Linked DNA regions of Homo sapiens. The protein of the gene in region 3 purifies or fractionates together with the protein of the main gene of each other region. This does not show direct contact. Each region holds a gene or a part of one and is shown on either strand. Other genes may lie near its edges.

What was found.
Region 1: the proteins of GML (region 3) and GAS6 purify together in Homo sapiens (affinity purification with mass spectrometry; one large-scale study listed by BioGRID and IntAct). This does not show direct contact.
Region 2: the proteins of GML (region 3) and NUBPL purify together in Homo sapiens (affinity purification with mass spectrometry; one large-scale study listed by BioGRID and IntAct). This does not show direct contact.
Region 4: the proteins of GML (region 3) and CNTNAP3 purify together in Homo sapiens (affinity purification with mass spectrometry; 2 studies listed by BioGRID and IntAct, with this or other methods). This does not show direct contact.
Region 5: the proteins of GML (region 3) and COL6A1 purify together in Homo sapiens (affinity purification with mass spectrometry; one large-scale study listed by BioGRID and IntAct). This does not show direct contact.
Region 6: the proteins of GML (region 3) and FAT1 purify together in Homo sapiens (affinity purification with mass spectrometry; 2 studies listed by BioGRID and IntAct, with this or other methods). This does not show direct contact.
Region 7: the proteins of GML (region 3) and AAGAB purify together in Homo sapiens (affinity purification with mass spectrometry; 2 studies listed by BioGRID and IntAct, with this or other methods). This does not show direct contact.

Annotation. Positions count from the first base shown.
Region 1 is NC_000013.11:113,836,577-113,840,076, forward strand, and holds part of GAS6 (growth arrest-specific protein 6 precursor), read right to left. Parts: intron 3,275-3,500; coding exon 3,152-3,274; intron 1,672-3,151; exon of another isoform or gene 1,616-1,671; coding exon 1,493-1,615; intron 1-1,492. UniProt on the Homo sapiens protein: Ligand for tyrosine-protein kinase receptors AXL, TYRO3 and MER whose signaling is implicated in cell growth and survival, cell adhesion and cell migration.
Region 2 is NC_000014.9:31,672,904-31,676,403, forward strand, and holds part of NUBPL (iron-sulfur cluster transfer protein NUBPL isoform 1 precursor), read left to right. Parts: intron 1-451; coding exon 452-491; intron 492-580; coding exon 581-671; intron 672-3,500.
Region 3 is NC_000008.11:142,837,801-142,841,300, reverse strand, and holds part of GML (glycosyl-phosphatidylinositol-anchored molecule-like protein precursor), read right to left. Parts: intron 886-3,500; 5' UTR 864-885; coding exon 791-863; intron 184-790; coding exon 76-183; intron 1-75. UniProt on the Homo sapiens protein: May play a role in the apoptotic pathway or cell-cycle regulation induced by p53/TP53 after DNA damage.
Region 4 is NC_000009.12:39,096,168-39,099,667, forward strand, and holds part of CNTNAP3 (contactin-associated protein-like 3 isoform 1 precursor), read right to left. Parts: intron 1-3,500.
Region 5 is NC_000021.9:46,002,159-46,005,548, reverse strand, and holds the end of COL6A1 (collagen alpha-1(VI) chain precursor), read right to left. Parts: intron 3,332-3,390; coding exon 3,148-3,331; intron 3,023-3,147; coding exon 2,839-3,022; intron 2,430-2,838; coding exon 2,400-2,429; intron 2,159-2,399; coding exon 1,536-2,158; 3' UTR 501-1,535; downstream 1-500. UniProt on the Homo sapiens protein: Collagen VI acts as a cell-binding protein.
Region 6 is NC_000004.12:186,619,357-186,622,856, forward strand, and holds part of FAT1 (protocadherin Fat 1 isoform 1 precursor), read right to left. Parts: intron 2,420-3,500; coding exon 1-2,419.
Region 7 is NC_000015.10:67,248,162-67,251,661, forward strand, and holds part of AAGAB (alpha- and gamma-adaptin-binding protein p34), read right to left. Parts: intron 1-3,500. UniProt on the Homo sapiens protein: May be involved in endocytic recycling of growth factor receptors such as EGFR.

The DNA.
Region 1 (3,500 bases), on a different chromosome or scaffold from region 3:
TGAGGGAGGGGGTGGGGAGGGGTGAGGGAGGGGGTGGGGAGGGGTGGGGGAGGAGGAGGAGAGGGGAAATAAGGATGGGGGAGGAGGAGGGGGAAAAAGAGGAGGGGGAATGAGGAGGAAGAAGAGGGGAATGAGGAGGAAGAAGAGGGGAATGAGGAGGAGGAGGGGGAGGAAGAAGATGGGGAGGAAGAGGGGGAGTGGGGGGAGGAGGAGAAGAAAGAGGAGGAGGAAGATGAGGAGGAGGAGGAAGATGGGGAGGAGGAGGGGGAGTGGGGGGGAGGAGGAGGGGGAGTGGGGAGAGGAGGAGGGGGAGTGGGGAAAGGAGGAGGGGGAATGGTGGGGAGGAAGAGGAAGATGGGGAGGAGGAGGAGAGGACGGGAATGCCTCTGTCACTGTGGGCAGTAACTGTGAGCCTAGACTTTGCCGGGAGTGCCCGACTGGTGCAGGGACCCACGGGAGATGCTTTAGACGTCATCTCTCAGGATCGGCCTAGTCTTCACCTCTCTTTAAACCTGGGGTGCTGCTGTCTTCCAGGTCAGGGATAGAGCAGTGATGGGAGGGGCTCTGTCCTCGGCGGGGAAATGGGTTTATGTGTTAAGATGGGAATCACGTCATCTGCACACAGGGCTAACTCCTGGGTGGTCAGGGAAGGGAACCACCAAAGTGGACAGAAATAGCAGCTGCCTTTTGAAATCGGGGGATGGGGTGTGGCCCCTCCTGTCTGGTCAGATTCACTCTCCAGATCCTGGGGCTGTTTCTCCCTGAGCAACTGTCTGTCCTGTCCACGCAGTTCGGTGTCCTGGACAGTCAGCAGCAGCGCTAAGAACTATGCCAGAAACTCTCAGGGACACGCCTGGGCATGTCCAGATACAACGTGGGGAGGGAGGAGGAAGGTGCTCCCCCTGCAAAGTGGCAAAGGGCCAGTGGCAGCAGCAGCACCTGGAACAGCGTCGGGGGCGCGCACATTCACAGTGACTTTCTGGGGTGTCCTGGGGCTCCCCAGCTCTGGCCCTGGGCTGAGGGAACCCCAGACTGAAATATGAAAGGAAGTGGGGAGGGCAGGGCTATATTTAGTGGACAGAGGGAGACCAACAACGGGGTGCTTCTGGGGATGCTGGGGAGAGTGGACGGCGGGGGGACCCTAGCCTGGAGCCCTGACCCACAAGCTCACTACACAAGTGCCTGGAGCACTTCCAGGCTCTGTGAGGCTCTGGGGAATGGACGAGGCCCTACAGCCAGCAGTGTGGCCTCATGGGCTGGGCCGGCCCCCTGAGTCCTGGCCCTCAGATGCCGGGTGAGTCATCCTGGTGTGGTGCCGAGCAGCTCCCTGTGCTGCGGCTGGCCTGGGCTTGTGTAGTCTCTGCAGGATGCCCCATCCCATCCAGAACCACAGGAACCCAGCCAGCAGCAGCCGCTTGCAGAAGAGCAGACATGACCGAAAATAGAAGGTGGGGAGAGGAGAGAGGAGAGAGGCCTCACCCCAGGGCCTTACCTTGGCAGGTCCTGCCATCAGAGGAGAGCTCGAAGCCGCTGTGGCAGGAACAGTGGAAGCTACCCGGCTTGTTGTGGCAGATCTGGAGGCAGCCCCCGTTCTCCTGGCTGCATTCGTTGACATCTGGGAACAAGCACAGGCCTGAAGGGGAGCCCAAGGGTGCACAGCCCCTGGCTACGGTAGGAAGAGATCCCAGAGGTGCACAGCCCAGCCCTGGAGCAGGGAGGGAGCCCAGAGGTGCACAGCCCAGCCCTGGAGCAGAGAGAGATCCCAAAGGTGCACAGCCCAGCCCTGGAGCAGGGAGGGAGACCAGGGGTCACAGCCTAGCCCCGGAGCAGGAGGAAGGGACCCCGGGGGTGCACAGCCCAGCCCTGGAGCAGGGAGGGAGCCCAGGGGTGCACAGCCCAGCCCCGGAGCAGGAGGAGGGGACCCCGGGGGTGCACAGCCCAGCCCTGGAGCAGGGAGGGAGCCCGGGGGTGCACAGCCCAGCCCCGGAGCAGGAGGAAGGGACCCCGGGGGTGCACAGCCCAGCCCTGGAGCAGGGAGGGAGCCCGGGGGTGCACAGCCCAGCCCCGCAGCAGGAGGAAGGGACCCCGGGGGTGCACAGCCCAGCCCTGGAGCAGGGAGGGAGCCCGGGGGTGCACAGCCCAGCACTGGAGCAGGGAAGGAGCCGGGGGGGTGCACAGCCCAGCACTGGAGCAGGAGGAAGGGACCGCGGGTGTGCACAGCCCAGCCCTGGAGCAGGGAGAGAGCCTGGGAGTGCACAGCCCAGCCCCCGAGCAGAGAGAGATCCTAGAGGTGCACAGCCCAGCCCTGGAGCAGAGAGGGACCCCAGGGCTTGGACCTCACACCCCACTCAGCAGCCCTAGCGTTTCATGGCCCCTGGTCCTGGCCTTGCGTGTGGAGGTAGATGGTGGGAGGGCATGGGGGATCCCCAGCTGCGGTCTCAGCCTGGGGAGCTGCTGGCAGTCACAGCCCACAGGGCTCAGCTCCCTGGATGCCCATGTGCTTGCAGGAGGAGGCTGCAGGCCAGGAGTGACCTCTGGGTGCCGAGGACAGACAAGGCCAGGCCAGAGCTGGCCACTCCTTAGCAAAGCCCTCCCAGGCCACCTGTGGGGTAGGATTTGCCAAAGGGGACAGGCTGGCCTGCTGGGCTCTCCACTATGGGTCTCCACCAGGCCCTGGAGCTATTCTTCCTCCAGGGTCTTCACTGACACCACAGGTCTACACTGAAGGACGGTCAGAGGTGAAATCTCCCCCCGGCCTTTCAATCAGTGGGTGCCACTGACACCACAGGTCTGCACTCAAGGACGGTCAGAGGTGAAATTTCCCCCCCGCCTTTCAATCAGTGGGTGCCACTGACACCACAGGTCTGCACTCAAGGACGGTCAGAGGTGAAATTTCCCCCCCCGCCCTTCAATCAGTGGGTGCTGAGGCATCACTTGGTGTTTCCTTTCCTTCCAGCCCTGCTCCCAGAAAGGAGACTGCAGCTCCTCCCAATTCTCCTGGGGCTCCAGGATACCTCAGGGCTGCAGCCTCCTTGGGGCTGTCGGAGAGCAGCCTGAGGATGGCCGTGCCCCGGAGTGGGAGTGAGGAGCGGGGATCAGGGCAGGGTCGGAGATGGAGGGAGACCCCGCCTTTGTCTTCAGCCTCACGTACCTTTGTCGCAGAGCCGGCCCCCCCAGCCAGCTTTACACAGGCAGAAGAAGTTGCCCATGAGGTCCTGGCAGGCTTGGGTCCCCTTCCTATCGCAGGGGTTGGGCGTGCACTGGTCAGGCAGGTCTGATTGGGGACACAAAGTGGAAAATCATGTTCAGCTGCCCCACCCCTGCGCGCCCAACGCAGCTGAGATCGGGGCGGCTGTGGGGTCTCGGGTCCAGCCCGGAGGAGCTCTGAGGGGCGCAGGCTGAGGCAGCCCCTGGGCACCCGAGCCCTCTGTGCTGGCCTAGGGCTGACAGAATAGGCTGGCGGGCCCTGGGGCCGGCTCCAGGAAAACTCAGATCAACTG
Region 2 (3,500 bases), on a different chromosome or scaffold from region 3:
TATGAGTAGCCTATTTGTATTTCCAGTTTGGTATTCTTTGATCCTGGAAGGATGGACGGGCAAAGGGGAGATGTTAGTCAAGTAGTGCGAAGTTTCAGTTAGACAGGGGGAATAAGTTCTAGTGATCTGTTGCGCAGCATGGTGACTATTGTTAACAATCATTTTTTGTATATTTCAACATTGTTAAAAGAGTAGACTTTAAATGTTTTTACTGCAAAGAAAGAATATGTGAGGTGATGTGGAATGCTAATTAGCATGGTTTATTATTTATTTACTTATTATTATTCTACTACAATGTAGACATGTATCATAACATTACGTTGTACCCCGTAAACATATGCAATTTTTGTTAATTAAAAAAATTTTTAAAAAGATGAAAAAAAAACCCAATTCAGAATGTTTATGTGTTGTGTTTTATTGTTCTAAAAGAGAGGATTTTTTTTTTTTCCAGGCAACCTAATGAGGCCTCTCTTGAATTATGGTATTGCTTGGTGAGCATATATATATTTTTAATGTTACTTTTCAGAATAATGTTGATTAATTTATACAAATTAGTTGTATTTTTATGTTACTGTTGCAGTATGTCTATGGGCTTTCTGGTTGAAGAAAGTGAACCAGTAGTTTGGAGAGGCCTTATGGTAATGTCGGCCATTGAGAAATTGTTGAGGCAGGTAAGAATATTGCTTTAAATATCATTTTATCATTGGCAAAGCTGTGGTTAATACATTTGCTGATTGGAGAATTGTTAAAATTTGCATTCAGGAATCAGTTGATGGGATGAATGTATAATGCGTAATATGGCACCTAATGAGTTAATGTGATGCCAAGACCAAACTTCACTGTTAACATGATTTAATCTTTCCCATTGCTTGTGAGTACTAAAAATTCTATTGTCTTACTTAATACTGTTTTCTTGCTTTGACTGTGTCTGCAGTAAGAAGACCAAATCAATTTTTATAAGTTATCTTCCTTCTTTAGATTTGTGATTAATCTCATTGTGGTCAATATTGAGTTATAAGGGCAGTGTAGAAATTCTACAGATGTAGAAAAAAATTATATAAACCAATGTACTTGTGATTTAAAATTGCTCCAGAAAAAAGTAAAATTTTGTTTTGAGTATATATGGTTATATATTTGCATGTGTAATATCTGTCCAATCAACTTTAATTTAGCCTTAAGAAAAGAAGAGAACATTTGATTGGATAATCTAAAAATATCAATTGGGCTATATGTTATTTATAGTTAGCTTGGAATAAGTTTTATTTTTTTCTCAGTAGATTTGAGTTTGTAATTGTCTTCTAGGTAAAAGTTAAAAGTAATTTGCATTTACTTCATCAACTTATAACAGTTACCTTTTATTTGTTCAGATTCTACTTTGGGTCAGGCACCATGCAATAGGTTGATAATTCTAATGGTAGATACTCCTATATTCATTTTCAGGTATACAATTAAGTAGATGAAATCTGTCTTGAACTCTGAAACTCTTCTTTTTTTCACTATAACATCTTGCCTTTCTACCACTTTTGCTGCTTGAATTGTGATAAATGTGCTGTTTGATTTTTGGTCCTAGTCATTTAAGTCTCTTGGTTTCATTTTCTCCTCTTTTACTGTCAGATCCCCTAGTTAGTGATTTCATTTAAAATCCCCAAACCACCCCATCCCCACCAATTCCTTTGTGACCTTGACCTTTATTTGTCTTGATTAACCCACCCTCTGTTTTCTGTACTTCTAAATACTATCAGAGAATATAGAATAGTTGTGTTAATTGCCTGCATTATATATTTTTGATTTTTGAATTTAGCTACCTTCACAACACTTCAGTCATCAGATTTTACATGTTGTTATTCTCAAAAAATATTCAGGGAATTTGGTAGTCTAGCAGAGGTCCAAATGAAGATTTGGCAAAAACAAGCTCTCTGACACATAAATTGTATAAAAGTTACAGTTTATTGGTTAGGTGTGGTGGCTCACGCCTGTAATCCCAGCACTTTGGGAGGCCGAGATGGGCGGATCACGAGGTCAGGAGATCGAGACCATCCTGGCTAACACGGTGAAACCCCATCTCTACTAAAAATACAAAAAAATTAGCCCTGCTTGGTGGCGGGTGCCTGTAGTCCCAGCTACTCGGGAGGCTGAGGCAGGAGAATGGCGTGAACCCGGGAGGCGGAGCTTGCAGTGAGCCGAGATCGTGCCACTGCACTCCAGCCTGGGTGACAGAGTAAGACTCCGTCTCAAAAAAAAAAAAAAAGTTACAGTTTATTTTGAGAAGTATGGTGGATACATTTTCAGCAAACATACTATAGAATATCAGGATAAAGATGGGGTAAGAAAATGGATTCATATTTTATTGGGATGCTTTGAGGTTACCTAGAGTATATCTATCTTACAGTCTTTCGTGAAGTCACTTTCATGTGTGCATTTTATTGGGAGCTGAAAAGCTGGTATTTTAGGCCTACACTGGGACTAATGCTGATCATCAGAGCTAAGGAGTGTTTTCACTTTTGTTTTGATTTAGAAACCAAACCATTATTTGGTAAATTTAACATCCTTAATGAAAATTCAGTAGCTAGATAGAACTTTTGTACCTGATTCATTGGCTCATTTTAAACAATTGAATATAACATATATACAGAAGAATGTACAAATCATGAGTATAATTAGATAAATTATCCCAAAGTTGAAACACCTATATAATCATCATTTAGAACAAGATAACTAGAACAAAACCAGTGATCCAGAACATCCTCTCATGTTCCCTCCTAGTACCCATTTATGGGGAGAAGAAAAATACTGTGGTCATTCTGATATCCTGAACTAGAAGTCTGGTTTAAAGTTGTTTTGTTTTTTTCTTTTTCTCCCTGACAATACTTTGTTGAGCTAAAATTATGCATACAATGAGATGCATAGATTTTCAGTATATAATTCAGTGATTTTTGATAAATATATATACCTATGTAATCATAACCCAATCAAACTAAATAGCATTTCCATCCTCCAAGAGAGTTTCCTTGGGTCCCCTTCTGTTTCATCCCATACCCATAGACAATCATTGTGATTTCTGTCACCGTAGTGAGTTTTACATGTTTTTAAATTTCAAATGAATAGGATTATACAGGATGTAGCTTTTTTTTTTTTTGAGACAGAGTTTAGCTCTTGTTGCCCAGTCTGGAGTGCAATAGTGCCATCTCAGCTCACTGCAACCTCCGCCTCCCAGGTTTAAGCAATTCTCCTGCCTCAGCCTTCTGAGTAGCTGGGACTACAAGGCATGCGCCACCACGCCTGGCTAATTTTGTATTTTTAGTAGGGACGGGGTTTCTCCATGTTGGTTAGGCTGGTCTTGAACTCCCAACTTCAGGTGATCTGCCCGTCTCGGTCTCCCAAAGTGCTGGGATTACAGGCGTGAGCCACTGCAACCGTCCAGGATGTAGCTTTTTTTTTATATGGTTTCACTTAGCCTAAGGCTTTTGAAATTCATGTTTATTGTTGCATATAATAGTAGT
Region 3 (3,500 bases):
ACTGGCCCTGGCCCCAGAAACTACCCAGGTAGGGGACTAATCTACAATGTGTCAAAATGACAAAGAGGTACTTACGAATGGAGATTGTCATACAGCGCCTAATATGATACGGACATACTCTAATGTTGGGACAGTTGAAGTCATTTATGACCGCACAGTCATGGCATCTCAAACTGTAAGTCCCTGAGAGGGGAGAAAGCAGGCTTCAGGCTTCTGCTCCACTACGCCTTTTCCACCCATTACCAGCTCACTCCACCCTTCTTCAACGGCCAGCCCTTCCCCTCTGCTTCCAAGGACTTCTCCTAGCCTGCACAGCTCAGCTCTCTATGCAGTCTGAGTCTGGCCCAGGCTAGCTCCTGGGAGGGAGGCCAGGCACAAGGAGAGCTTTCCCTGCTCTCCAACGCAGGCTCCAGAGAGCGCCACTGGTGGTCACATACGGGATTGCTATGCTCTGCAGACCTGGCTCACCTCGCCAAGGAAGACTGGATACTCACAGGGGTCCGCCATCCTCCTGGGTTTCCCTGGACAGAGCCCCTCCTGCCTGGCGCTGATGGAGAAGGGCCACATCAAGGTTCCCCCTTGGTCCCTGGTCAGCTGCTCCTTCATCCTAACCCTCTCCTTGCTCATGACTACTCCTGGACTGCCCTAGTGCCCACCCCTGATTACACAGACAATGCAGGCCCCAGCTAACGGAGGCTTGCTCCACGTTGCAGCCAATCATCCCAGTGACCCCCAGCACCCCAGGTGAATTCTCGTCCTCTCCAGGACAGTGAGAGGGAATGATACTTACACTGAGCGCGCATGGTGGCACTGGCTGCCACCAATGGGAGCTCCATGGCTAGGAGTAAGGCAAAGAGGAGCATCACTTCACGCAGGAGCCTGGACCTGAAGGGAAGGAGCCCCATACAACACGTTAGTGAGCCATGGCTCCTTGGCCAGCTCTATGCCCCTGGCCTCAACGGCCTCATGAGTCTCCCTGACTCTGCCCACCTGAATGCCTCCCCCACTGGGCCAGTAGCTCCTCGGGTAAGGCACTGGGGTCGGGCAGGTCTCACCCACACACGAGGCTTCGCCAGGCCTGTGCCCTCACCTCAGACAAACTCGCTGTCACTCCTTGAGCCAGGGAGGTCCTGGGGCTGCTTCATGTGGCAGCTCACCCAAGGGTCCCCACGCTCCGAAATATGTTTCTGTATCTGCTGGTTGATTCTGAACCTCAACAGCGGCTTGTGAAATGTTCTCAAATACTCCGCCCACTGACGCGCTTCCCGCTCCCTCCGCCCACTGACGCGCTTCCCGCTCCCACACACAGCTCAGCAACACGAGGGCCAAGGTGACTACAGAAGGGGAGCGAGGGCAGAACATGCCAGAAGCCCAACTTGAAGGCATCCTCAGTGTCATTACGAGAGAACTCCCCTCCCAAAATCAAGTCTTCCTTCACCCTGGGCATCACCGAGCCATCAGCTAATTACTGGCAAGGGGAGGGTCTGGGGCACCTCACACCTGAGTCCTGATGCCAGCACTGTGGGCTCAGAAACGCCCCCCAGGTCACCAATCAGTTGCCACAACTGAGACATTTTCTCGCAGGGACCCAACTGCACCCTTACTCCTGCAAACGCACTGTCTCCATCCCCTACCCCCCTTCAGCAGCCCGACTCAAGGGGGAAGCTCCATCTCCCTGGTTGGGAGCAGGTCAGCCCGCAGTGCTCAGTGGGGCAACTCCCTGGGCCCAGCTGCTGATGCGTGCTGACTCCCCTCACGCGAAGGCCCCACCTGGAGGGGGTCAGAGCCTGATGTGTAGCTCCCTCCACCGCAGGAGCAGCTGGGGCTACAGAACTAGAAGCTGACTGTGCAGCAAGAAGCCACACCCCAGGGATAGGGATGATCAGGATCCAGTACCCACTTTGCCCCACCCTGTGTACCAAGTCCAGCGCCAGTGGGCGAGGCTGAGATTCAAAATGCCCCTAGCCCTAGGTCATCAAGTTTAGGAAAAAAGATGGGCTGGTACCTCTGGCATGCAGGAGACCAAGACTGGGGGCCTGTCAGTGTCCACCCTTGGAAGGGGCTCCTGACTCGTCCAGCCAGCCAGCCTCCCTAGGTGGATCTCCTACCCACTCCATGCCCATTCCCCTGAGACCCAGCAGCCCCGTCTCCACTCTGTCGTGCCTGCTTTCCCTGGATGCCTCCTTCACTCATCCAACACTTGCTCCCAAAGCTGGGCTCAAGGGCACCTACTGACCCAGAGCATGTACACTGAGGCCCTCTTCCTCCATGAGGGCACAGCAGACATTCTGAACACCCTTCTACTGTCAATGCCCAGAGCACATGCAGGAAAACTCCCATCAAGTGTGTTCACTGATTTCCAGCTGGATCTTGGGGTGGATGGGAAAATACCCAAGAGCTACAATGGAATACTAGAAGACAGCAAACTGGAAAGTCCACAGTAACTGTATGATTTCCTCGGGCACAGGTTGACACCCAGCTCCCAGAGCTTTAGGATTTTGTAGTAGAAGAGGTCCTGGAGACAGAGCCAGGGCCAAGGTGAGTGCGAAATGAGAGCTTGGATTCCTTCACAGAGCATGGATCCTCAAGACTAAAGGTGTCAGAGAAGCAGAGTGGGCTAGAAAATGTGGATCATCAGCATCAGCAAACAGAGACCCTGGTAACTTCAGGCCTCATCTTCCAGAGGATGCATGAAAACAGTGTGTTTCCCAGGAATTCCTTACCCAGAGGCTTTCTCAACAGTCAGTCTGGAGTTAGAACGTGTATGACTGTGTGATCATAAACCCCAGACACAAAAACCACTTGCAAGTGGTCATGAGTCATCCTCACCCTGGGAAGCCAACAGAAACCATCACTGGAGGGGGACATACCCTCCACTCAGACCCCGAGTCTCCGGTTGACTAATGACAAATACAAATGTGCCACAGATAACCAGAGGCACAGAAGTGATTAAGCCCCCAGGAGCAAAGGCAGAAGAAACAAAATCTCCAAGTTAGACTCCCAAGGAATTCCCATATAGGAATGATTGGAGGCAAATGTAAACATACAGCCTTGAAAAGTCAGGAAAAAATCAGGTCACTTCCACTTCTACATGGGATGCAGTAGGTTGTGGCTGCTCAGAATGTGACAACCAGGCAAATCAATCCACAGAGTTAAAAGTCACATTTGAAAGGCCCTTGGACAGATGTGGAAGCACCAAGGCCCACGTAAACTGAAATTCCGAAGAGGGCGAGCCCTTCCCAGGGTACCCTTTGTCATTGCAAATACATTTGTCACTTTGGGCACCAGCTGAAAGCCAGGCTGGCTACAGACAGGGACTCCAGTAGGGAATGCAAACCAGAGTGCCGTCTTGGCTCACGGGGAACCAAAGTGGCCCAGAATCTCCAGGTACCTAAAGATCAAGACAGTTTTCCCATGGAAGAGCCTCCAAGTGCTGTGGTGGGAGGGACCCTGGGGAGTCAGAGAAGGCCAAGTAGAATCCCCCCCAGTGTGGCAGATCC
Region 4 (3,500 bases), on a different chromosome or scaffold from region 3:
TGCTTTTTAAAATAGTTAAGCACTGAAAAGGGTAAGAAATATGACATTATACTTTCTTTTATAATTACCTGCACACTTACCTTTATTAGTGCTATTTGTTTTTTGTGTGTAGATTCAGATTATTGTCTGGGTTATATCCCTTCAACCTGAAGGAACGTTCTTTGTTATTTCCTCTAATGCAGGCTAATAGCAGTGAATTCTCTGTTTTTTGTAAGTAGGGATATATTTACTATCTTTTTTAATTTTTAGTTTTTATGAATACCTAATAGTTGTACGTTATTTATGGGGTAGAGGTAATATTTTGATACAACCAAACAATGTGTAATGATCAAATCAGGGTAACTGAGATATCCATCACCTTAAACATTTATCATTTCTTTTTGTTAGGAACATTCCAGTTCCACTCTTCTAGTTATTTTGAAATATACAATAAATTATTGTTAACTATAGTCATCCTGTGCTACTGAACATGAAAGACGGTTTTGCTGGGTGTAAGTTTCTTCATGACAATAGTTTTCTTTCATCTCTTTGAATATGTTATCTCACTGTCCTGTGGCCTCCATTCTTTCAGATTAGAAGGTAGCTGTTGATCCTGGCGTTTCCTTGTATATATGATTTTTCTCTTACTGCTTTTAAAATTTCCTTCTTGACTTTGGCTTTCAAAGTTTTTAATAAGATGTGTCTGGATATAAACTTCTTTGTGTCATCTGTATTTCACTGAGTTTCTGTATCTTAGATTAATGATTTTTATTAATTTGGGGGTGTTTTCAACCATTATTTTTCAAATATTTTTTTCTGATCCTTTCTCTCTCTCCTGGTATTTTCAATTACGTATATATTGGTGTGCTTAGTTATGTCTGATATTTCTCTGATGATCTATTTTTTTCATTATTATTTCTCTGTATTCTTCAGGATACATAATCTCTATTGATCTTGCTTCAAGTTTGCTGACTCTTTTTTCTTTTCTCTGTTAAACTTCCCTGGCTTAACTCATTACTCTCTTGGAGTTATCAAAATTCTCTTAATTGCTTACTGCCAATATCTTCATACCACTATGCTTAAACTTATCCATCCTCTGTTCCAAATAGAAATCAGTTCACTTGGGGAGGGCTACCAAGCTGTGTATTTTCATGGCCTCCCTCTACCTCTTGGTTGAATGTGCCTCACTGCTCTGAAGCTGTGGGGAGTGAGAGTGGCCTGCTCCTTTGTAGTAAAACCTCTGCTTACAAGTAGGGCACAGGGTGGGAAAGGTAACTTCTTGCCTTGCCTCTCCTGGTGGAGAAACTGTTCCTTACAAGTAAGCTGGAGTGAGGGCAATTGGGACACAGGATTTTCCAGCTGCCACACCTGAAGACCTTATGTCCTGGAATGAGGAGTTGGTGTAGGAAGGAAACCCCAGACTTCTCAGCTGTTTCTGCGTGGACAGAGCTTCTGTCCTACAAAACTGGGGATGACAAGAAATGCTGGCACCCAATCTTGGGGTAATGCAGTATCTCTGGAGTAGGACCTGGGTAGAGAGGAAACCTCTGGCTTCTTGGCTATATCCATATAGAGTGGAGCTTCCGTCATACTGAGCTAGGGATGGGGAGGTGCTGGGAGAGGGTCTTGGCTTAAATGCCTCAAACTCTCACTATTATTACTGATTAATAAATGTTTCTTCATTTGATGTATTTCCTTAGGACATCTTCTAAAGACTTTCAATAGTTGTTTTTTAAAATAATAATTTTTACTAGTTATGCTTGTTTCGTATGAGAGAGGGTTTACAGAGCTCCTTATGTGGCCAGCCTGGAAATGCCAGAGTACCAGGTTTTTTATTTGAATGTTACCTCCTCTTTAAAAATCGATTTGCTTTGTAGGAAGCATGAAACAGAGCTCCTGAAGTAACTAGAGAAAAGGTGATTTGAAGACCAACCCTCCTTCAAGGTCAGAATTTAGAAATGTTCTTTTATGCCAAAGATGTTTCTCAAATTTACTGTCTGGATAGAAAGGCTAATCCAAAGTGGTATCTACAGTATTCTGAGAGAGAAAAGTTGAAGGGCTTTCAGATTCTCTTAAAACACTTTATGAAAGGTTGATATTTTAATTTTATATCAAGTTAATTCCAAAAATGTGTTTAGTACACACATACACATACACACACCCCCCAAATATATCTGTAAATAAAAAGACAATGTTGGGTGATGATCATTGTCTTGGAATACTACTCCACTCTTTCCATTTCCATAAAATATAAAGAATTTACTGAAAATCCAGATCATTCTTATTAGATTAGGTAATCTAACTATAACATATGCCCCAGCCACTGGAGGACCATTTTCCATTTACTTACTATATAATGTCTATCCTTAAGAAAATTTTGGGTTATAAAATAACATTCAAATTGCACTTAGCAAATGTGGATTGGGAATGATTTAGAAATCAGCACTTGTGCTCATGAAGGAGTGGTTACTCCTGATGTTGGCTTGAGATATAAAAAGGGCTCTGTATTTGCACCAGAGCTATGAGATTTGTTAGCACAGAGATCTTCAGGAATGATAAAAGACACATGCAAGACCTTTTGAAAATTTAAATGACTTCTAGATAATGAATCCTCAAAATTTTTTTGAAAGTCACACAATTTTATAGTGATTAAAGCCTGTTTTGCTGCTAAAAATAGTAAGTGTAACAGCCCAGAGACACTTAAAAACACAACTACATTTTAGCTCTGATGATTCAATATTGTAAGAGGTTTCATAAAAGTATTATAAATATATTAAATAAGTCAGTACAGAGTACTTAATACTAAAATCAGTCCCTTTTTCCTTTTCTTTTTTTTTTTTTTCCCCAAGACGGAGTCTCACTCTGCCGCCCAGGAGTGAGTGCAGTGGTGCGATCTCTACTCACTGCAACCTCTGCCTCCCGGGTTCAAGCAATTCTCCTGCCTCAGCCTCCCGAGTAGCTGGGATGCCCGGCTAATTTTTGTATTTTTAGTAAAGATGAGGTTTCACCATGTTGGCCAGGCTGGTCTTGAATTCCTGACCTCGTGATCCGCCTGCCTTGGCCTCCCAAAGTGCTGGGATTACAGGCATGAGCCACCACGCCCAGCCCTTTTCTTTTGAAAACATGATTGTACCTGAGCAGAAGCTGTGTGATACCCCACTGCACTCCTCTAAGAAGAGTCAAACATCATAGAGCACAGTGTTTGAGTGATCCTGTTAATGACTGTCAATATTTAAATATTATTTTCCCCTTCTAGTTAGTATGCTTGTTTTATAAGAAAAGACATTTCTATAAAGGCCTTTTGAATCACTTCAAGTCATTGTCACAAGGGACAATGGGTAAGACGATTGCTCAAGCCTAGGAGTTCAAGTCCAGCCTGGGCAACAGAGAGGCTTGAATAGCAATACGTTGTCTCTAAAAATTAAAAACAAAAATAACAATGATGGTTTACTGATGTTAAAATTAGAACAGTACAAGGACAGAGTTTTGAAAACCAAATTATTTCAAGAGGATTAGCATTG
Region 5 (3,390 bases), on a different chromosome or scaffold from region 3:
TCGCTGCCTCTGCCCTCCGCCCTCTTCTTGCTCTGCCCCAAAGGTGGAGCCTCCCAAGACTTCTTCCTCTGCCCCAAAGGTGGAGCCTCCCAAGACTTCTTCCTATGGGCCCTGCAGTATCTCAACTCCCCTTCCGAGCTCCCAGGGGTATTTCAGTACCAAGCCTAGAACCTGTGGCCGGCCTCTGTGGTTGACCTCGGTGGATGTGGCCGGCCCCAGCCCACTGAGGCCTGATCTGCTCCCGACCCCAAAGCCCAGGGTGTTGCCTTCTCAGCTCCTCTCTGTCCACAGGTGCAGCATGGTCTCCATGTCACCGACGCAGACGCAGATAAGGGGCATGGATGGACAGCTGTAGCCAAGGGCAGCCCTGGTTCTGGCCTGGGACTGGTGGTGATGGGGGTTGGGAGTGAGCACGCACGCACACGCCCCCCAACCTCCTGTGACTGCTCCTTTGGGGCACACGGCAGGATTTTACTTTGTGGGGAAGATAACCACAGGGAGAGGAGTGAAAACCTTTATTTGGAAAAGTCAGCAACATGGATATGGTTCAGAAAAAAACACAGAAGGAGCAAAACTAACATGAACATAGAAAGGGGGCCTTTGATAAAACGTCGAACACATCACTATTCTGAGGAAGGAGAGGTTTGCGTTGTTTCTAGTAAGACACAGCCCTCTGTGGCACCAAGGGGCTCTCATGTCCAGTCCAGGCCCCAGTCTCTGCGGGAGGGAGGAGCAGACGGGGTTAGCACCGTTAATCTCGAGGGTCTTGAGTGCAGCCAGCGCCCCTGCGAGTACTCTCTGAGGTCGGGGTCAGTGCTGGTCAGCAGCGGCCTCCAGGGCTGTAGGGCCAAGGTCCAGGCCGGTCACCAGCAGGACCCTCAGGAGACGGGGCCGAGTCGCCGAGATTTATGTCTGCAACGGCCTCCTGACCTTGGTTTCCCAAAACGAGACAGAGGCCAATGGCTGCCCCAAGCTGAGGAGAAGAGCTTGCTTTGAGTTTAATTGTAAAGTAACTGTTAGGTGAGGATTGGTGGGAAAAACCAGCTATGGGGACAGAGGAGAGGGAGGCTAGTGCGGCACAGGCCCCGAGAGGGCGTCTTGCTCAGGCTGGTGGGATGCAGCACAGAGGTGCCTAGGGAAGGAGCTGCGCAGGCAGGAGGGAGGGCGGGCAGGAGGGCAGGGCAGGAGAGCCCGGGGTGGGGAACCCAGGTGAGGCCAGCTCAGGGCTGAGCCCCAGAGGGCCCTGCACAGGTGACGCCAGCTCAGGGCTGAGCCTCAGAGGGCCCTGTGCAGGTGACACTAGCTCAGGGCTGAGCCCCAGAGGGCCCTGCGCAGGTGATGCCAACTCAGGGCTGAGCCCCGGAGGACCCTGCACAAAGCAGGCAGCAGCGTTGTGTCCTGGCTTTCCAAGCTTTTCCTTAAAAAAAATCTAGCGAATCAGGTTGGTCGGGAAAATTCGCATCACATTTTACTCTGTTTAGTGATGAGTGGGGAGGGGTGGGAGGACAGGGTTTGGTGCCGGCGTGCAGGGTGGGCTAGCCCAGCGCCACCTTCCTGGAGACTGTCTGGTGGAAGACACCGCGGAGCAGGGCCTGGTAGCTGGGGACACGGAACAGGTGGCTCTCGCCGTAGGCCACGTCGTACTCGGCCGTCTTGCCGGTGACCAGGACGCGGATGTGGGGCTCATTCACCTGGCGGCCCACGACCACCACGAAGATCTCGATGCCTGCCCGCTGGGCTTCCTGCACGGCCTTCTCGATGGCAGCGGGCGTGGCGCCCTGCGAGTTGCCATCTGAGAAGAGCAGCAGCCTCTTCTTGGCAGCGCCGGACGAGGCCTCGCGGTAGAAGCGGGTCACATAGCCCAGGGCATCGTTGACGTCGGTGGCGTCGTTGATAAAGTCCATGGCATCGACGGCACTGGCCAGGGCCGTGTAGTTCTGCAGGAACTGCAGCGACGCCCGCTCTGGGCGCTGCTGGCCCGTGCCGCTGTACTGCACCACCGCCACCCGCACGTCGTGGGCGGGGTCCGTCCTGCCCGCTGTGAGGAAGCGCTCGGCCAGGCGCTTGGCGAAGCGCTTGGTGGTGTCAAAGTTGTGGCTGCCCACGCTGGCGGAGCCGTCCAGCAGGATGGTGATGTCAGCCGGGGAGGAGAACGTGACTGCGGGGCGGGGTGGGCAGCCGTTAGCATGAGGCCCTGGTGATGCAGCCGCAGTGGGCCGGCCAGAGAGCGTCTAAGCTCCCCAGAGAGGGCACGGCACGGTGGTGCTCAGCCACCGGAGTGAGCCATGCACCTACTCTCGTGACCGCCAGGCCCTCCTCCCAGAGCCCCGTCCTCTCAGAGCCCTCGCCCCAACCACGGTGCCCTCCTCCCCACGTGTCCCGGCCGCCGAGGTACTCACTGGGGCAGGTGTAATCTGGACACTTCTTGTCTGTAAAAGAGAAAAGCCGTGCAGTGTGAGCCCACTGCTCCACCTATAACCCCGCAAGGAGATGTCACAGGACCTCCCGGCCGAGCACAGGGGTGGCCGTGCCCCCGGAAGTCACAGCGAGCCGGGAGGAGGATGCCTGTGGGACAGCCCCAGGCGGCCCCGTGCGCACCTACAGGGTGGCCGTGCCCCTGGAGGTAACAGTGAGCTGGGAGGAGGCCTCTGGGACAGCCCTGGGCGCCTGCGCGCACCTACACAGATCTGGGACGGCCCTGGGCGGCCCCGCGTGCACCTACGCAGATCTGGGACTGCCCGGGCGGCCCCGCGTGCACCTACGCAGATCTGGGACTGCCCGGGCGGCCCCGCGCGCACCTACGCAGATCTGGGACTGCCCGGGTGGCCCCATGCGCACCTATGCAGATCTGGGCGGTGACATTCTTCAGGAAGGCATCCTCCAGCAGCTCTGCATAGTTCTCCTTGACCAGCGAGAGGCCGGGCCGGCCCTGGGATGGTGCCAGGCCTTGGCAAGAAATGACATTGAGCTGGTCTGAGCCTGGGATGAAGTCAAACACGTCTTTGATGCCCACGGAGACCACCTGTGGGGACAGACAGTATCGGTGTGGCGCAGCCTGCTCTGCCCTCGTCTTTCTGGGGACAAGGCCACCCTGGCTGGCGGGGCGCCCTAGGCGGGGCAGGTGCAGCCTGGGGGTGGCCACCCCACCTGGATGCCGGGGCTGCAGAGCACGTTGAGCGGTGTGGTGTCCCTCTGAGTGTCTGAGCGCCCGTCAGTGATGACCAGGGCGATGCGGTTGTTCGGGCTGGGCGGCAGCAGCTGGTCCCGCGTGTACTGCAGGGCCTCCCCCGTGAAGGTGCCGCCCGCCATCCACTGCAGGCTCTTGATGGCTCTGCATAGCAAAGGGCAGGAAGGGCCGGTTGGGGCCAGGCCTGCCGCGGGGCCGAGCCC
Region 6 (3,500 bases), on a different chromosome or scaffold from region 3:
GTCACGAAATGCCCATGAGGGGCGTGCTCGCTAATTCTGGCTTCATAAATCTGTTGTTCAAAGAGTGGTGGATTATCATTGAGGTCGGTAACGTCCACCGTGACAATCACATCACTGCTCAGCGTGGGCATACCACCATCAACTGCCCTCACAAAAATCGTGTGCTGCCGGGACTGCTCGTAATCCAGGGTTCTGAGTAGTGAGATGAGGCCAGTGCTGCTGTCTACATGAAAATGATCATGACTCTTGCTGTGATTCCCAAACATCTGGTATGAGATTCCTCTATTTGGTTCTGAATCAGAATCGGTGGCTCTAACTTGAACAACAGACGTTCCAATTACAGATGCCTCAGACAGGGTCACCGCATAAGACTGCTGAGCAAACACAGGAGGGTTATCATTGATGTCGTCTACTATGATGTCCACAAATACTTCAGCATGAGCGCCCGTCAAGGAGTCAGTTGCGCGTATGCTCAGCTTATATGCCGGGTGGGCCTCAAAGTCCAGAGGAGCTATGACATTGATAACTCCAGTATTGAAGTTAATAGTGAACTGGCTGAAAGGGTCTCCGTCTGTGATGCTGTAGAACACTTTCAGGCCTTCCGGGCTGTTAGCCTGCACGTGGACCACAGGGCTGTGCACCTGGATGCTCTCTGCAATCTCTGCACTGTAGAAAGGTTTTTCAAACACAGGCATGGCTTTATTCATGACAGTGATCGGAACGATAACTTCCGCTGAAAAGGCCGGGTTCCCTCCATCTTTTGCAACCACTGTAACAAGATATTCTTTATTTAAGGTGTCAAGCTCAAATTGCTTTTTCAGTGAAATTTCACCCAAGGGTCCAATTTGAAAGTGTTCATGATGTTCCTTGAGGTAGTAATGCACTTCCCCGTTTCTGCCACTGTCTCTGTCTACAGCAGTGACATAGCGAATGACATGGCCCACCTCAGTGTCCACTTTAACAACGGCGTAGTAGGGAAGGTTGACAAACACCGGCGCATTATCATTTTGGTCTTCTACAATGACCTTCACGACAACGTGGGCCACTGCAGAAGGCTTATGTTCCTCTGTCACTTCTACAACCACATCAAACGCCTCCTGCTGCTCACGATCGAAGGGCGTGCCAGTGGTTGACAGAACTCCTGAAGTGCGGCTTATTTTAAATCTGCGATCTGGGTTGAGGATGTGATAAAACAAAGGCTCATTGATTGGATTCCCAATAGCAGTAATGACAGCTAATGTTTCGGCCTCGGTGGAATTCTCTTTCACTACCGCAGAGTAGACATCCTGGGTAAACTTTAGGTGACTTTCTTTGCTTTCTTTCACATTAATTTTGACAGAGGTAAGGCCGGCAAATCTGCCATCGGAAGCTCTAACGGTTAGCTCGTAGCGGCTTCTTAACTGAGTTGTGTTTTGGACAGTGAGAGCACCAGTCTTGTAGTCCATAGAAAACTTCTCCCCGATGTTGCCTTCGGTGATGGAGTAAATCAACTGTGAGAATGCACTTGAATCAGCATCTGTAGCATTTACTGTGATGACTTTTACTCCTTTGTATGTTGGTAACAAAAGAGATGCTTCATATAATGGCTTGGCAAACACAGGGGGGCAGTCATTAATGTCAATTACATGTACTGTTACATTCGCTGCATACTCAGCAAATAAACGTGGGGTTCCCATGTCATGCACTTGGACGGTAAAGTGAAAAATACTTGTTTCTTCATAGTCCAGACTTAGTACTGTATGAATAGCACCAGTGCTAGAATCAATAGCAAAATATGTGTGTACAGATGGTTCAACAATGTGATATACAAGCAAAGCATTTGAGTCTTTATCAGCATCAGCTGCTCGAATCACCAGTGGGACATTCCTGTCTGTTAGGACCACGCTGTTAATTGAGGCTGATTCACTAATGAGTCCTGTATATTCTGCCTGCATAAAAACTGGCGCGTTGTCATTCTCATCCTGCAAGTGAACTAGAACCGTTGTATTAGTGGACAAACCAGCCATGTTAGTTCCTTGTATTATCAATGTGTAAATGGGCAAAGTTTCAAAGTCCAGGGCTTTCTGAGTGATGATAGTTCCAGAATGTGGATTAATATCAAAAGCATCACCTGTATTTCCATCTTTTATTTCATACACCACTGATGATTGACTATGGGCTGTAACCATCCCAACGAAACTCCCAATGCTGACAGTTTCACTAAGTTCAACAGAATATTCTTTTGATGTAAACTTCGGAGAGGCGTTGTCAGCAATTGTGACAAAGATACGCACAGAAGTTATTTCACTCATTGGTGGACTGCCCTTATCTGTAGCTTTTACCATTAAATCATACTCCGCTTGGTTACTTCGATCTAATTCTTTGGCAGTTTTAATAGAGCCCAAGACAGGATCAATCATAAAAGAATTTCCAATATTTCCTGGAAGGAGAGGAAAAAATACATGTTACAGAAAAACACAAGGGGCAGTAGTAGTAGTAGTTAGAGAAACAGAAACAAAGTATCCTTAAAAATTATATTCTGAAATTAAGCAGAAACTCAGGGGATGTCAATATTTGAATGGAACCTTCAACTTGTTTTATTTTTATCCACCTAAAACCAGGTATACTTTACAGAATTTTGTCCATAAATGATGAAAAACAAAAAACAGAAGAAACAGCACTCTGCTCTTAGCGAAGCCAAAACTCCCTCTCTCGGCTGCACTGGGAATGTGTGGTGGAAAGACAAGGCTATCCTTCCACAAAGCAGTTGAGTGAGTCACTTTCCAGGAGTCCCTCAAAACACTTCTGGACCACATTTGTATTTTCAACGGTTATGACTTACAAATTCTTAAGATATGTATTCATTACGAAAGATTTCGATTCAGTAAGAAATTGACATCAAGCTTCAAGAGACAATTGTCCATGGATAAATGTGTGTAACCCACCCCACTTTACAGGTTTTGAAGATTGCAACAACATTCCCTTCTTATCTTTTTCAGGTCAACTTATCCTCTAGGTCAGTGGTTTTCCCCTGGGGGCAATTCTGCTCCCTAGGAGACATCTGGTAATGCCTGCAGACATTTTTGGTTGTCACTACTTGTCGGAAGAGGGTGCTCCTGGCGTCTCGTGGGTGGAGACCAGGGGTGTTGCTAAGCATCCTACAACGCACAGGACAGCCCTACACAACCAAAAATATCTGGTTCCAAATGTCAGCAGTGCTGAAGCTGAGAGGCTGCTCAAAGATAGAGTGTTTTACCTCCTTTTCTTTGGACCTTTTCAGGCTATACTGTATGTATCTTTAGCTGCAACCACAACTCCAGAATATTGTATAATTTTGTATCATCGACTGAATCTTCAAAGAAACAAGCAGTTCTCTACAGCCCTTTTGGATAAATCAGGGTGGCGTTGCAGGTTCTCAGGTTTAATCCATCCACGAGCCCATCCTTTTTCTGTTTCATGAACAAGCACCCAGAATTCACCATCCCTGTCATAGCACAGAATTTATTTTCCCCAAATGAACT
Region 7 (3,500 bases), on a different chromosome or scaffold from region 3:
TCCCTCTTTTAATAAACATAAAAATCAATCCTTCTTTTAATGTTGGTTGAAAAAATGTAAATATATTAAGTATCATAGCTAAAAACAATCAGTTCCCTCACCCCAGTCATCAGTTGAAATCACTGCCCTCATCTGACCATCTACTGAATCACTCTGTGATGACAACTCTAGGCCCTTGTGGTACATCTTGCTGGCCCAATCTTCCATTCTTTGAAGAAAATAAAGACATGGAAATATACAATCCAATCAAAGGCAGAATCCTCTTACCACAACAAAATAAGTAACTTTGCTTAAGTAAAAATTACTTATTCCCAGAGTAAACCAAAGAGTGCACTCAAAATACTTAAAGAAGCTACAGAAAAACACACATTTGAAGACTCAAGCTTTTATCCCCATTCTGTTGCTAGACAATGGTGTCAAAGCAGCACAATAGCCTCTACCTTTGAAATAACAATGTTCTCTTTAGTAAATTACTTCAAGATACTTTTGCAAGTATAGGAGTCTGACAGACCTAGAAACAAATTCCCAATCTTGCAGAAGAATGCATGTTTTCCAAAGAAGCAATGTCATGAATATGGCTGGCTTTCCTGTGTAACTCTCCAAGGCCTAGTTTACCCATTATATAATTGTGCTTTCTGGTTTTGCAGTTTCAGAAACCTGAGGACCGGAGGGTTATTTCTATGGGTAAATGCATGTGAATTTCAAACACAAAAGGTTAAATTTTCTACTCCATAACTAAATTTTCTACTCCATCTACTGCAACCTTAAAATAAGGCTTGATTCCTAAGTTTTCAAAAACTAAAAGAGAAAAAACATTAAGTCAAGTTAAGAAGCATTATATAAATCTTGCATAAAAATAAGTAACATAATAACCCAGAAATTTTTTTTTTTAAGACCGGGTCTCACTCTGTCACCCATGCTGGAGTGCAGTGGCGTGATCTGAGCTTACTAGAACCTCCACCTCCCGGGTTCAAGGAATCCTCCTGCCTCAGCCTCCCGAGTAGCTCAGATTACAGGTGTGCACCACCACACCCGGCTAATTTCTGCATTTTTAGTAGAGATGGGGTTTCACTATGTTGGCCAGGCTGCTCTCGAACTCCTGACCTCAGGTGATCAGCCCCCCTCGGACTCCCAAAGTGCTGGGATTACAGGCGTGAGCCACCATGCCTGGCCAATAACACAGAATTTTACATCTAGAAGAGATGTTAGAAATGATCTCAAATAACCCTTTATTTTTAATGTTAATCCTGTACGGTAAGAATCACCAATACATAGCATCTCTGAGTTCACTCAATTGAGAAAATAAAAATCCAGACACTGTTAGACTACCTATCAGGTATGCATAATGCTCTTTTTTAATATGTATTTAATTTAATACACATATTAAATAATGCTCCATTTATTGGTTTCGATGGCAACAATTTTTTTCCCCTCCATTCAGAATTAAGACTTTAATCATCCGAAGTGGCAATGTGAGCATATTTTAAAACCGTTTAGGGGTTAATCGTCTCTCTCATTGCTTACACCAGTGCCACCACCTTAAATTAAAATAGTTCTGACTGCTAAGGAATCTCAACACATTACATTCACACATTCCTATGCATATAAATCCTGAATTTGAACATATGCTCCAGCACCTGGGCAAGTCATTTAGTATTTCCAAAGCACAGTTTCTTCATCTGCAAAATGGACACAACCTACCTTCACAGGGATACAAAGACCAAACTAAATGTGAAAACATGTTTGGGAAGAGTACAGATATACATATAAATGCTTGCTATGATTATAAGAGCTCTAAATTTCTACATTTCACTAAAAGGAAGAATTTTGTTCAGATGTAGAAACTGAATGAACTACAGTTGCTGAGTTGGCATTACACACTTTAAAACCAAACAAGTTTCCAGGGACTTTTCTATCTAAAGTTCCTTCTAGGGAAGTAGAGTAAGATGTTAAAACTTACATATCTTCATTTTAATATTTTCACAGGTGGACCATACACTTTCTTTCTTTCTTTTTTTTCTTTACTGGAGACTTTGAGGCAGGGTCCCACTGTCACCCAGGGTGGTGTGCAGTGGCATGATCTCGGCTCACTGCAACCTCTGCCTGCTGGGTTCAAGTGACCCTCCTGCCTCAGCCACCTGAGTAGCTAGGATTATAGGCACGCACCACCGTGCCCAGCTAATTTTTGAATTTTTAGTAGAGACGGGGTTTCTCCATGTTGGCCAGGCTGGTTTTGAACTCCTGACCTCAAGTGATTTGCCTGCCTTAACCTCCCAAAGTGCTGGGATTACAGGCGTGAGCCACCATGCCTGGCACATGGAGGATACACTTTCTACATTCCTCTCAAGGGCAGGAACAGTATCTTAGGCATTATTTTAGCTGCAGTAACTGGAACAGAGACTGTCTCTGTGTTTAATAAATATTCATCAGAATATACTTTTCCAGAATAAAGTAAAACTTTTGTAAAATATATGTGAGGTGGAAAGAGCTCTGGCCATGGAGTAGATATTTGCTCTCATATCGTGTATTACAAGTCCCTCAAGCATCCTGAGGCTTCATTTCCCTTTAAAAAATCTACCCTGTCGCCGGGTGCGGTGGCTCATGCTTGTAATCCCAGCACTTTGGGAGGCTGAGGCGGGCAGATCACGAGGTCAAGAGATGGAGACCATCCTGGCTAACACAGTGAAACCCCGTCTCTACTAAAAAATACAAAAAATTACCCGAGCTTGGTGGTGGGCGCCTGTAGTCCCAGCTACTCAGGAGGCTGAGGCAGGAGAATGGCGCGAGCCCAGGAGGCGGAGCTTGCAGTGAGCCGAGATCGTGCCACTGCACTCCAGCCCAGGCAACAGAGTGAGACTCCGTCTCAATAATTAAAATAAAATAAAATAAAATAAAAAATCTACCCCGTCAGTAATGCCCCTTTTATCCGATGTCAGACATCCACCCAGAATACTGCAAATAAGGCCTTTGAGTGACAAAAAGAAAAAGTTTCTAATGAAGTCCATGCATGCACTTTATGCATAGTAGAGGCCTACTGATTCTTATTTTAAGTGCGTGTGTGTGTGTGTGTGTGTCTGTGTGTGTGTGTGTGTGTGTATTTGAGACAGGGTCTCACTCTGTCACCTAGGCTGGAGGGCAGTAGCACCATCACAACTCACTACAGCCTCGATCTCCCAGGCTCAAGCAATCCTCCCACCTCAGCCTCCCAAGGAGCTAGGACGAAAGGCACATACCACTATGCCCGGCTAATTTGTTAACATTTTTATTTTTATTTTGTAGAGACTAGGTCTCCCTATGTTGCCCAGGCTGGTCTTGAACTCCTGTGCTCAAGTGATCCTCCCGTCCTGGCCTCCCACAGTGTTGGAATTCCAAGCATGCACCACTGCATTTGGACTGTTTTAAGAATAATTCTAATAAGCTGTTACTTGGTTATATTTCCCACTGGTGGTTAAAAGCACTAAGATAGATCAGATGTCCAAAGAAAGAGAAATTGGAGAACC